Linked DNA regions of Homo sapiens: region 1 is linked to region 2. The links come from fine-mapping of genetic effects on gene expression. A gene starts in region 2. The other region holds a variant in brackets. All regions are shown on one strand. Distances are from middle to middle. Region 1 has its middle 6.3 kb from the start of ZNF776. Region 2 holds the start of ZNF586 (zinc finger protein 586).

Region 1 (5,377 bases), 29 kb after region 2:
TCACTGTGTTAGCCGAGATGGTTTCGATCTCCTGACCTCATGATCTGCCCGCCTCGGCCTCCCAAAGTGCTGGGATTACAGGCGTGAGCCACTGCGCCCGGCTTTTTTTTTTTTTTTTTTGAGACAGAGTCTTGCTGTGTCGCCCAGGCTGGAGTGCAGTGAGGCAATCTCAGCTTACTGCAACCTCCACCTCCTGGGTTCAAGCAATTCTCAGGGCTCAGCCTCCCAAGCAGCTGGGATTACAGTGCCATTACGCCCGGCTAATTTTTTTTTTTTTTTTTTCTTTGAGACGGAGTTTTGCTCTTGCTGCCCAGCGTGAAGTGCTATGGCACAATCCTGGCTCAACACAACCTCTGCCTCCCAGGTTCAAGCAATTCTCCTGCCTCAGCCTCCCGAGTAGATGGAATTATAGGCATGTGCCACCACGCCCGGCTAATTTGGTTGTGTGTGTTTTTTTTTTTTTTTTTTTTTTTTTAGTAGAGATAGGGTTTCTCCTGTCTCTACTAGAAAAAAAAAAGGGTCAGGCTGGTCTCCAACTCCCAACCTCAGGTGATCCATCCACCTCGGCTCTCCAAAGTGCAGGGATTACAGGCATGAGCCACCACATCTGACCGATTATCTATTCTTAAGTGTATTACTATGCTGTTTTACTTATAATCCTGATATCTCTCATTTTTGTTATTTTTGAGACGGAGTTTCTTGCTCTTGTTGTCAGGCTGGAGTGCAATAGCACCATGTCAGCTCACTGCAACCTCTGCCTCCTGGATTCAAGTGATTCTCCTGCCTCAGCCTCCCTAGTAGCTGGCTAACTTTGTATTTTTAGTAGAGACAGGGCTTCTCCATGTTGGTCAGGCTGGTCTCAAACTCCTGATCTCAGGTGATCCACCTGCCTCAGCCTCCCAATGTTCTGGGATTACAGGCATGAGCCACCATGCCTGGCCTCTAAATGTTATCTTGTATGACAGCATGATATATAGGCACATAAAAGCAAGATGCTTTAGAAATGTAAATAAAAGATTATAAATTACAAATGGCAATGTAATCAGGGATGTAAAGAATCTCAATACCTAAATGTTACCTTGCATGACAGCAAGTTATATAGGCATATTTCATCTTCACTATCAGTAATATTTTGCTTTCTTCTTTCTAGAAATATCTGTGATGATTCTTAATCAACATAGGACTCTACAGTAATGTCTAGAAGTTTAAAATTGTGTGTTCCAATTATATTATGACTACACACACTGGAAGGTATATTTCTATCTATTGTGGAGTAAAATTTTCTTGATTATACCCTGCTTATGCTCCCACTAAACCTTTGTAATCAGCAAATTTAAAAGCCCAAGTCTCTGAGTAGCATTTGTGCTTCTGTGTGGCCAGTATGACCCCACCTCCATTCTGTCTAACAGCCCCTTGGGGTTCTGAATATGCTGGTTGTGTGGATCACATCTCTCCCTCTTGGGTTTGTTGTCAGTGTGGTATATATTTATGTCGGCTCAGGCTGTCAATAGGTGCCAGTACCCAATGCCTCTTACACAGAGTCCTATAGGTATAACAGGGGCACCTCTAGGATGGACTGAGATTTTTTTTTTTTTTTTTGAGACAGGGTCACTCTTTTCCCCAGACTGGACTGTGGTGGCATGATCTTGGCTCACTGCAACCTCCGCCTCCCTGGTTCAAGCAACTCTCCTGTATCAGCCTCCCGCATAGCTCGGACTACAGGTGAGCGCAACCCATGGCTAATTTTTGTATTTTTAGTAAAGACAGGATTTCTCCATGTTGGCCAGGCTGGTCTCAAACTCTTGACCTCGTGATCCACCCACCTCGGCCTCCCAAAGCGTTGGGATTACAGGCGTGAGCCACCGTGCCCTGCCGGACTGAGGTCTTTAAATACTGCACACCTGTCACACAGGGTCCCTGGGATATGTGTTTTGTCTATAGGCTGTGCTGCAGTATAACCCTCAGGCACTTGTCACACACCAGGAGCATACACTCTTTGAAATTTTTGCTTCCAGACTGTACCACAGCATGCTGGGAGAATGTAATCCAACTGTGTGTTTCTGGCTGTGTCATAATCACACACTTATGTGGGACTACCCCTGAATCACCCATTTCAAGAATATCTAGTTTGCTTATGGCTTATACATGTGTAAACAACTTAAATCATATCAGAGATATGCACAAAAAATTAGAGTATAATAAATTCTAATACAAAAATTACACAATTTCAAGAAATAAATAAAATTTTGGCCAGGCGCGGTGGCTCACGCCTCTAATCCCAGCACTTTTGGAGGCCAAGACGGGTGGATCATGAGGTCAGGAGTTCAAGACCAGCCTGGCCAAGATGGTGAAACCCCGTCTCTACTAAAAATACAAAAATTAGCCGGGCGTGGTGGTGGGCGCCTGTAATCCCAGCTACTTGGGAGGCTGTGGCAGAGAACTGCTTAAACCTGAGAGGCGGAGGTTGCAGTGAGCCAAGATTGCACCATTGCACTCCAGCCTGGGTGACAGAGAGAGACTCCGTCTCAAAAAAAATAAAAAAATAAAATAAAATTTAAGGCCAGGCATTGTGGTTATGTATGTAATCCCAGCACTTTGGGAGGCCAAAGCAGGTGGATTGCTTGAGCCCAGGAGTCTGAGACCAGCCTGGGCAACATTGTGAAACCCAGTCTCTACAAAAAATAAAAAATAAAAGCTTAGCCAGGCATGGTGGTGCTTGCCTGTAGTCCCAGCTACTTGGGAGGCAGAGGTGGGAGGATCACCTAGCCCAGGGAGGTCCAGGCTGCAGTTAGCTGTAATTGTGTCACAGCACTCCAGCCTGGGTGACAGAGTAAGACCCTGTCCCACACCCCGCACAAAAAAGGAATTTTAAAAAGGAAAGTCATACCTGTAGATTAATAGAGATATATGAGACAGAACTACTAAAAGTCATGGGGATAAATTTGGGAATTTCTTTCTTTTTTTTTTTTAATTTTTGTATTTAGTAGAGACAGAGTTTCACCATGTTGGCCAGGCTGGTCTCAAAATCCCAACCTCAGATGATCCACCCGCCTCAGCCTCC[C/T]AAAGTGCTGGGACCACAGGCGTGAGCCACCACGCCCACATTTGGGAATTTCATTGCAATGAAGCTGCTTAAAGAACAAAGATATTTTTGAGACAATAGAAAAAATGGACGATGATAACATATTTTGTTATGCTTTAAACATTTCTGATGGAACCAGTTGTAGGTGTTATGAAAGAGCCCTTGGACTTTGGAAATACCCTGTGAAGAGATTATGCATTAAGCGATGTCAGGAAGCTGGGCGCTGTGGCTCATGCCTGTAATCTCAGCACTTTGGGAGGCCGAGGTGGGTGGATCACCAGAGGTCAGGAGTTCTAGACCAGCATGACCAACATGGTGAAACCTTGTCTCTACTAAAAATACAAAAATTCACTGGGCGTAGTGGCAGGTGCCTGTAATTCCAGCTACTAGAGAGGTGGAGGCAGGAGAATCACTTGACATGCTGGGATTACAGGCGTGAGCCACCACGCCTGGCCTAGATTCTTTACATATCTGATTACCTTACTATTTCCAATTTACAATCTTTTATTCATGTTTCTGAAGTGTCTTTCCTTTCACTAATGGGAGAGGAAGTATTAACTCTTTCACTCATCAAACACAAGTTAGTAAAATACCAGAGACTCAATTTGCAAATCATGCCCCCAAAAAGACAAAAATGCATAACCAAAAAATGTTATAAAGACACTAAATGGCCACTCAAATACTTTAAACAGTCTTCTTCATTTCCCACTGGTAAAGATCTTACAGTGGACTTTGTGAGGCTTAATATTTTCAGTCAGTAATGGAAGGAAGAATATTCAAAGAAGGTTTCAGAGGAAATATAGAGGAGAGGCATAAGGCAAGGAGAGGAGGTTGCACCATGTCTCCAGGTCCCTCAGAGTATGTCTCAACCTCAGAGCAGAACTGGTTCCTTCTGATTGTAACACTCTGTAGGGACCAGCCCCACAGGGTCGGTGGGTCTCTCCCTGTGTGCGGTGACGAGAGAGTGTAGAAATAAAGACACAAGACAAAGAGATAAGAGAAAAGGCAGCTGGGCCCGGGGGACCACTACCACCAATGCGCGGAGACTGGTAGTGGCCCTGAATGTCTAGCTGCACTGTTATTTATTGGATACAAAGCAAAAGAGGCAGGGCAAAGAGTGTGAGTCATCTCCAATGATAGGTAAGGTCATGTGGGTCATGTGTCCACTGGACGCGGGGCCCTTCTCTGCCTGGCAGCCAAGGCAGAGAGAGAGAGGGAGAGAGAGAGACAGCTTACACCATTATTTCTGCATATCAGAGACTTTTAGTACTTTCACTAATTTTGCTACTGTTATCTAGAAGGCAGAGCCAGGTGTACAGGATGGAACATGAAGGTGGACTAGGAGCGTGACCACTGAAGCACAGCATCACAGGGAGATGGTTAGGCCTCCGGATAACTGCGGGTGGGCCTGACTGATGTCAGGCCCTCCACAAGAGACGGAGGAGCAGAGTCTTCTCTAAACTCCCCCCGGGGAAAAGGGAGACTCCCTTTCCCGGTCCGCTAAGTAGCGGTTGTTTTTCCTTGACACTAAGGCTACCGCTAGACCAGACTTCCCAGATGCTGGCATCACCGCTAGACCAAGGAGCCCTCTGGTGGCCCTGTCTGGACATAACAGAAGGCTCGCACTCTTGTCTTCTGGTCACTTCTCACTGTGTCCCCTCAGCTCCTATCTCTGTATGGCCTGGTTTTTTCTAGGTTATGATTATAGAGCGAGTATTATTATAATACTGGAATAAAGAGTAATTGCTACAAACTAATGATTAATGATATTCATATATAATTACATCTATGATCTAGATCTAGTATAACTCTTGTTGTTTTATATATTTTATTATACTGGAATGGCTCATGCCCTCGGTCTCTTGCCTCAGCACCTGGGTAGCTTGCTGCCCACAACACTCACCTGGGAATAGTTGGTATTTACTAATTCACATTTACAAAACCGTGGCTGGAGTGTCAGCATTCCTGCCATGGGGAAAGTGGATATTTGAACCCTGAGAAAAGATTCTGGGTACAATAATCTCACCTTCTTGCTGGGAAGGAACTATCATTTCAGCAGTAAGTACAATGATAGTTTCGGCATGGGGACTGGAGATTACCTCTGGAAAACAGCTTGGACTGAGAAAATTAGTTAATATTGTGGATAAATGAAGTTACCACTGAGAATGACATAAGTAGCTAGAAAAGTTTCTGTGAAGTCTGAGAACACATAAATCTCAATGGATAGTGAGCAGAGGACATGGGGCTGTAAGTTCTGAGATAATTAAGTGGAGCCCATGGCTATCCTAGAGACTTGAC
Region 2 (5,377 bases):
AGCCTCAGTGAATATTACACCTGCTATCAACTTGCTCATCTCAGTTGATGCAGCTCCCATTGCTACAGCTGCTAAGATAAAAAACCCAGGGGTGTTTCCTGAATCCTCTCAAGCTCTCACTGTTCACATTTAAAAATTGAGTTGCCAGGCTGGGCACGGTGGCTCAAGCCTGTAATCCCAGCACTTTGGGAGGCCAAGGCGGGTGGATCACGAGGTCAGGAGTTCGAGGCAGCCTGGATAATATGGCGAAACCTAGTCTCTACTAAAAATACAAAAATTAGCTGGGTGTGGAGGCGCGCGCCTGTAATCCCAGCTACTTCGGAGGCTGAGGCAGGAGAATCGCTTGAACTCAGGAGGCGGAGGTTGCAGTGAGCCAAGATTCCACTATTGCACTCCAGCCTGGGCAACAGGTCCAGACTCCATCTTGGGAAAAAAAAAATTGACTTGCCCCTCTAAAAAACACAAATCCAGATCTAGCCACATTGCCTAAGCCACAACTCTAGTCCATTAATCCTCACCTCGACTAGGGCAGTAGCTTCCAGTTTGATCTTCCTCCTCCCTCAACCCCACAGTCTGTTGCCCACTCAGTAACCAGACAGCGCCTATTAAGAAATTGGTAACATCACCTCACCCCTCTAGTTTCACTTCTAAGTAAGTATTTGCACACCCCAGTATCAGTTCCTGGGTGAACCCTCCACATGTGTTACATTAGTTGACAGACATAGCAACAACTCCCCATAACCTATGTCACTGATGTAGGTTTGGGGTTTGAGGTTTTTCCAAGATCCCCAGATTGAAGGACCGGAGAAATGGCACTTAAGTGTCCTAGGAGGTGCGGTAGTTCCTGCTTGGCATCCCAGCACTTTGGGAAGCCGAAGCAAGAGGACTGCTTGAGCCCAAGGGTTCGAGACTAGCCTGGGCAACATGGCGAAACCCCATCTCTCTCTCTCTCTTTTTTTTTTTTTTTTCAGACGGAGTCTTTCTCTGTCGCCCAGGCTGGAGTGCAGTGGCGCGATCTCGGCTCACTGCAACCTCTGCCTCCCGGGTTCAAGCGATTCTCCTGCCTCAGCCTCCCAAGTAGTTGGGACTACAGGTGTGTGCCACCAGGCCTGGCTAATTTTTTGTATTTTTAGTAGAGGGGGGATTTCACCGTGTTAGCCAGGATGGTCTCAAACTCCTGACCTCGTGATCCGCCCGCCTCGGCCTCCCAAAGTGCTAGGATTACAGGCGTGAGCCACCGCGCCCGGCCGTGAAACCCCACCTCTACTAAAAATACAAAAAGCCAGTTACTCGGGAGACTGAGATGAGAGGCTCTCCTGAGCCCGGAGAGGTCGAGGCCGTGCTGCGCCGTGATCGCGTCACCGCAACCCAGCCTGGGTGTTGAGTGAGAACCCGTCGCCGAAAAAAAAAAAAGATGCCAAGATCTAGACATGTGGGATAGGATGAGGACCAGTGAAGGACTAGAGCATCCCCTACTTCCTACTGTGGATTCTGTAAGTGCTTCTGTAGCCATGAGGTGTGCCAAAAGGCAGGGCTTTCACAAATGTGTCTGTGCTCGGATTTGATAGACTCAGGCTTCTCTGTAAGCTTTTTTTGGCCCTGCAGCCAGATGACTTCAGACTGAGTCTCTAATCTTGTGGCCCAGTGCTCAATGTCACCTCTCAATGATTCAACCTCTCAATGTCCTCATCACTGCCTTCAACTCTGTTCTTCCTTCGAACATCTTTTGGGAATCGCAACTCTAACACAGATTTCCTCCTTTGTTCAAAACTGTCCATGGCTTTTAGCGTCCTCACAGTCAAAGTTCAACCCTCAGCCTGGTACTGAAGAAACAACTCCGCCTCGGCCAGGCGCGGTGGCTCACGCCTGTATTCCCAGCACTTTGGGAGGCCGAGGTGGGCGGATCACCTAAGGTCAGGAGTTCGAGGCCAGCCTAGCCAACATGGTGAAACCCCGTGGTGGCGCATGCCTGTAATCCCAGCTACTCGGGAGGCTGAGGCAGGAGAATCGCTTGAACCGGGGAGGTGGAGCTTGCAGTGAGCCGAGATCGCGCCACTGCACTCCAGCCTGGGCGACAGAGTGAGACTCCGTCTCAAAAAAAAAAAAAAAAAGAAATAACTCCGTATCACACTTCTTTCCCAGTAGACACACGATGTCCCCGTGTTCCGCATCCTCCTGCCTCAGTCGCGCCTGCAGGCCTTTGCCCTCCGCCAGTCTCGCTCTGCCGACCGCATCAACTGGGTGTCGGAAACAGGGATCCCACCCGCCGGCGCCTCTCCGTCCCTGACAGAGGCCTGGGCTGCAGGGACGCGAGGAGGCGGCCCTCACGATCAGGGGCCTCAGGGTCTGGGTGGGTAGGGTGGGTAAGGCCCGGAGGTCGCAGCGCTCACCTGAGCAGGCGCCCTCAGAGCGGCTGCTGCCGCCATGACTCTGGGCGGGGGGGGAACGCGGGCTCGGCGGTGTTCCTGTCGTTGTCCTGTCCCGGGTCGCGACCAGCGGCGTCGCCGAACCTCAGATCCGCCTGTGTGCAATGGCCACAACCACTCCTCCCGAGCTCGTCCAGACCCAGCATCGCCGGATGGACCTGACAGGCCAAAATGGCTGCCACGGCTAGGACGCCGGAAGTCCTGGCTTGACTTTACGTGCCCCGGCAATGGCACGGCTTCTCTGAAGCTTCATTGGCTCAGCCACGTTACCATTTCGCAGGGCGGATTCTGGGTAATGTAGTTCCCAGACATGGGCAGCGCTTAAGGTGGCTTTCTTCCGACTTTCCGAAGAAAGGGGCAAGCTCCACTGCGAGGGGCGCTAGGAAATGGCGACTCCAGGTCCAGATGCGGAGGAGGGTCTCCCATCTTAGAAGAGGCCATACGCACATTTCTGGGGGTACTGTGTGCAACTGATTGCCCGCGTGTTTGGAGACTTCTTATTTCAGAATTTGTGATGCTCGGCTTCTTCCTTTTTTTTTTTTTTTTGTCTTTTTTTTAAGACATAGTTCTCTCTGTCACTCAGGCTGGGGTGCAGTGGTGTGATCTTGGCTCACTGCAGCCTATGCCTCCCGGGTTCAAGCGATTCTCGTGCCTCAACCATCCGAGTAGCTGGGATTACAGGCGTGTGCCACCATACCCTGCTAATTTTTGTATTTTTAGTAGAGACGGGGTTTCCTCATTTTGGCCAGGCTGGTCTCGAACTTCTGGCCTCAAGTGATCTGCCTGCAATGGTCTACCGAAGTGCTAGGATTACAGGCGTGAACCACCGTTCTCAGCCCATTAGCAACACTTTTATTTATATCTTTAACCTACAGATTCCTCTAGAAATCTGATATCAACATCAAAAAGCTAATGAGACAAATGCTATTATGTTACAGGACAATGGCTGCGGTGTTCAAACATGGAGTATGTATGCATGAGAGAAGAGAGAGACCCTCTCACATTGTTTTATATTCAGTAAAAACAACAAGGAAGTAAAACCAAAGACAGGCAACCCCGCGCCAGGCCCGAAACCAGGCCTAGGCCCGCCTGGCCTAAACCCAGTAGTTAAAAATCAACTTATGATTTAGAAGCCGATGTTATTCATAGATTCCTTAGATTGTATAGAAGAACATTGTGAAACTCCCTGCCCTGTTCTGTTCCTCCCTGACCACCGGTGCATGCAGCCCCTGTCACATACCCCTTGCTTGCTCAAATCAATCACGACCCTTTCATGTGAAATCTTTAGTGTTGTGAGCCCTTAAAAGGGACAGAAATTGTGCACTCCGGGAGCTCAGATTTTGAGACAGTAGCTGGCCAATGCTCCCAGCTGAATAAAGCCCTTCCTTCTGCAACTCGGTGTCTGAGAGGTTTTGTCTGCGGCTCGTCCTGCTACATGCACAGGGTGCTTTTACACTGAGATATTTCAAGTGCCTTAAATCCATGCGTTCACCTCTTTGCTGGCAAGTGCTTATCATTGTCAGTGGCATTGGAATCAGAGTGACTCCATCTTGAAAATGGGCTGGATAAAGTAAGGCTGAGAAATACTCGGCTGCATTCCCAGGTTAGGCATTCTTAGTCACAGGATGAGATAGGAGGTTGGCACAAGATGCAGGTCACAAAGACCCTGCTGATAAAACAGGATGCAGTAAAGAAGCTGGCTAAAACGCACCAAAACCAAGATGGTGATGAAAGTGACCTGTGGTCATCCTCACTGCTCATTATACGCTAATTATAATGCATTAGCATACTAACTCCCGCCAGCGCCATGACAGTATACCAATGCCCTGGCAATGTTTGGAAGTTACCCTATATAGTCTAAAAAGGGGAGGGAACCTCAGTTCTGGGAAATCTCCACCTCTTTTTTTTTTTTTTTTTTTGAGATGGAGTCTCGCTCTGTCACCCAGGCTGGAGTGCATTGCTGCGATCTCGGCTCACTGCAACCTCCGCCTCTTGGCCAAGTTCAAGTGATTTTCCTGTCTCAGCCCCCCGAGCAGCTGGGATTATAGGCGCCTGCCACCGCGCCCAACCTGTAAAATTTTCTATACTTAAAAAAAAAGTTGGCTGGGCGCGGTGGCTCACACCTGTAATCCCAGCACTTTGGGAGGCCGAGGCGGGCGGATCACGAGGTCAGGAGATCGAGACCATCCTGGCTAATATGATGAAACCCCGTCTCTACTAAAAATACAAAAAAATTAGCTGGGCGTGGTGGCAGGCGCCTGTAGTCCCAGCTACTCCGGAGCCTGAGGCAGGAGAATGGCTTGAACCCGGGAGGCGGAGGTTGCAGTGAGCCGAGATCACGCCACTGCACTCCAGGCTGGGGGACAGAGCGAGACTCCGTCTCAAACAAACAAACAAACAAACAAACAAAAAAGTTGGCCGGGTGCGGTGGCTCATGCCTGTAATCCCAGGACTTTGGGAGGCAGAGGTGGGCGGATCACGAGGTCAGGAATTCGAGACCAGCCTCACCAACATAGTGAAACCCCGTCTCTACTGAAAATAGAAAAATTAGCTGGGTGTGGTGGCGCATGCCTGTAATCCCAGCTACTCAGGAGGCTGAGGCAGGAGAATCACTTGAACCCAGGAGGCGGAGGCTGCAGTGAGCCAAGATCGCGCCACTGCACTCCAGCCGGGGTGACAGAGGACAGAGTGAGGCTCCGTTTCAAAAAAAAAAAAAAAAAAAAGCTTTCTTGGATTATGCTTTGTATAAATTAAATTGGATATTTAGTGTAAACTTTATTCAGTAATGGAGGTGAGGGTTTCCAGTAGTATTTCTTTCCCCAAACAATCATTTTCTCAGATTTCCCGTGAGTTGGCTCATAAACATGTTGTACCATAAGAAATTGAAATCTCAAAGGCAAGATGGGTCTCCTGTTGGGTCCACACCAAAATTTGTAAATGGGGGAAAAGCA

The links. PIP is the estimated chance that this variant, and not a neighbour inherited with it, causes the effect. A credible set is the group of variants that fine-mapping cannot tell apart.
Region 1: its variant is the best candidate, but not a certain one, in a credible set for the expression of ZNF586 in whole blood (TOPMed, PIP 0.56).

Annotation. Positions count from the first base shown.
Region 1 is chr19:57,737,814-57,743,190 of GRCh38, reverse strand. No RefSeq gene overlaps it. Among named protein-coding and RNA genes, the nearest start is that of ZNF776, 6.3 kb to the left of the region's middle. The variant C/T (reference allele first, on the strand shown) is at 3,062.
Region 2 is chr19:57,766,892-57,772,268 of GRCh38, reverse strand. It overlaps ZNF586 (zinc finger protein 586), which reads right to left and starts at 2,593. Exons shown (of 3, transcript NM_017652.4): 1 at 2,391-2,593. The coding sequence starts at 2,426. RefSeq lists enhancers at 2,359-2,608, 2,330-2,869.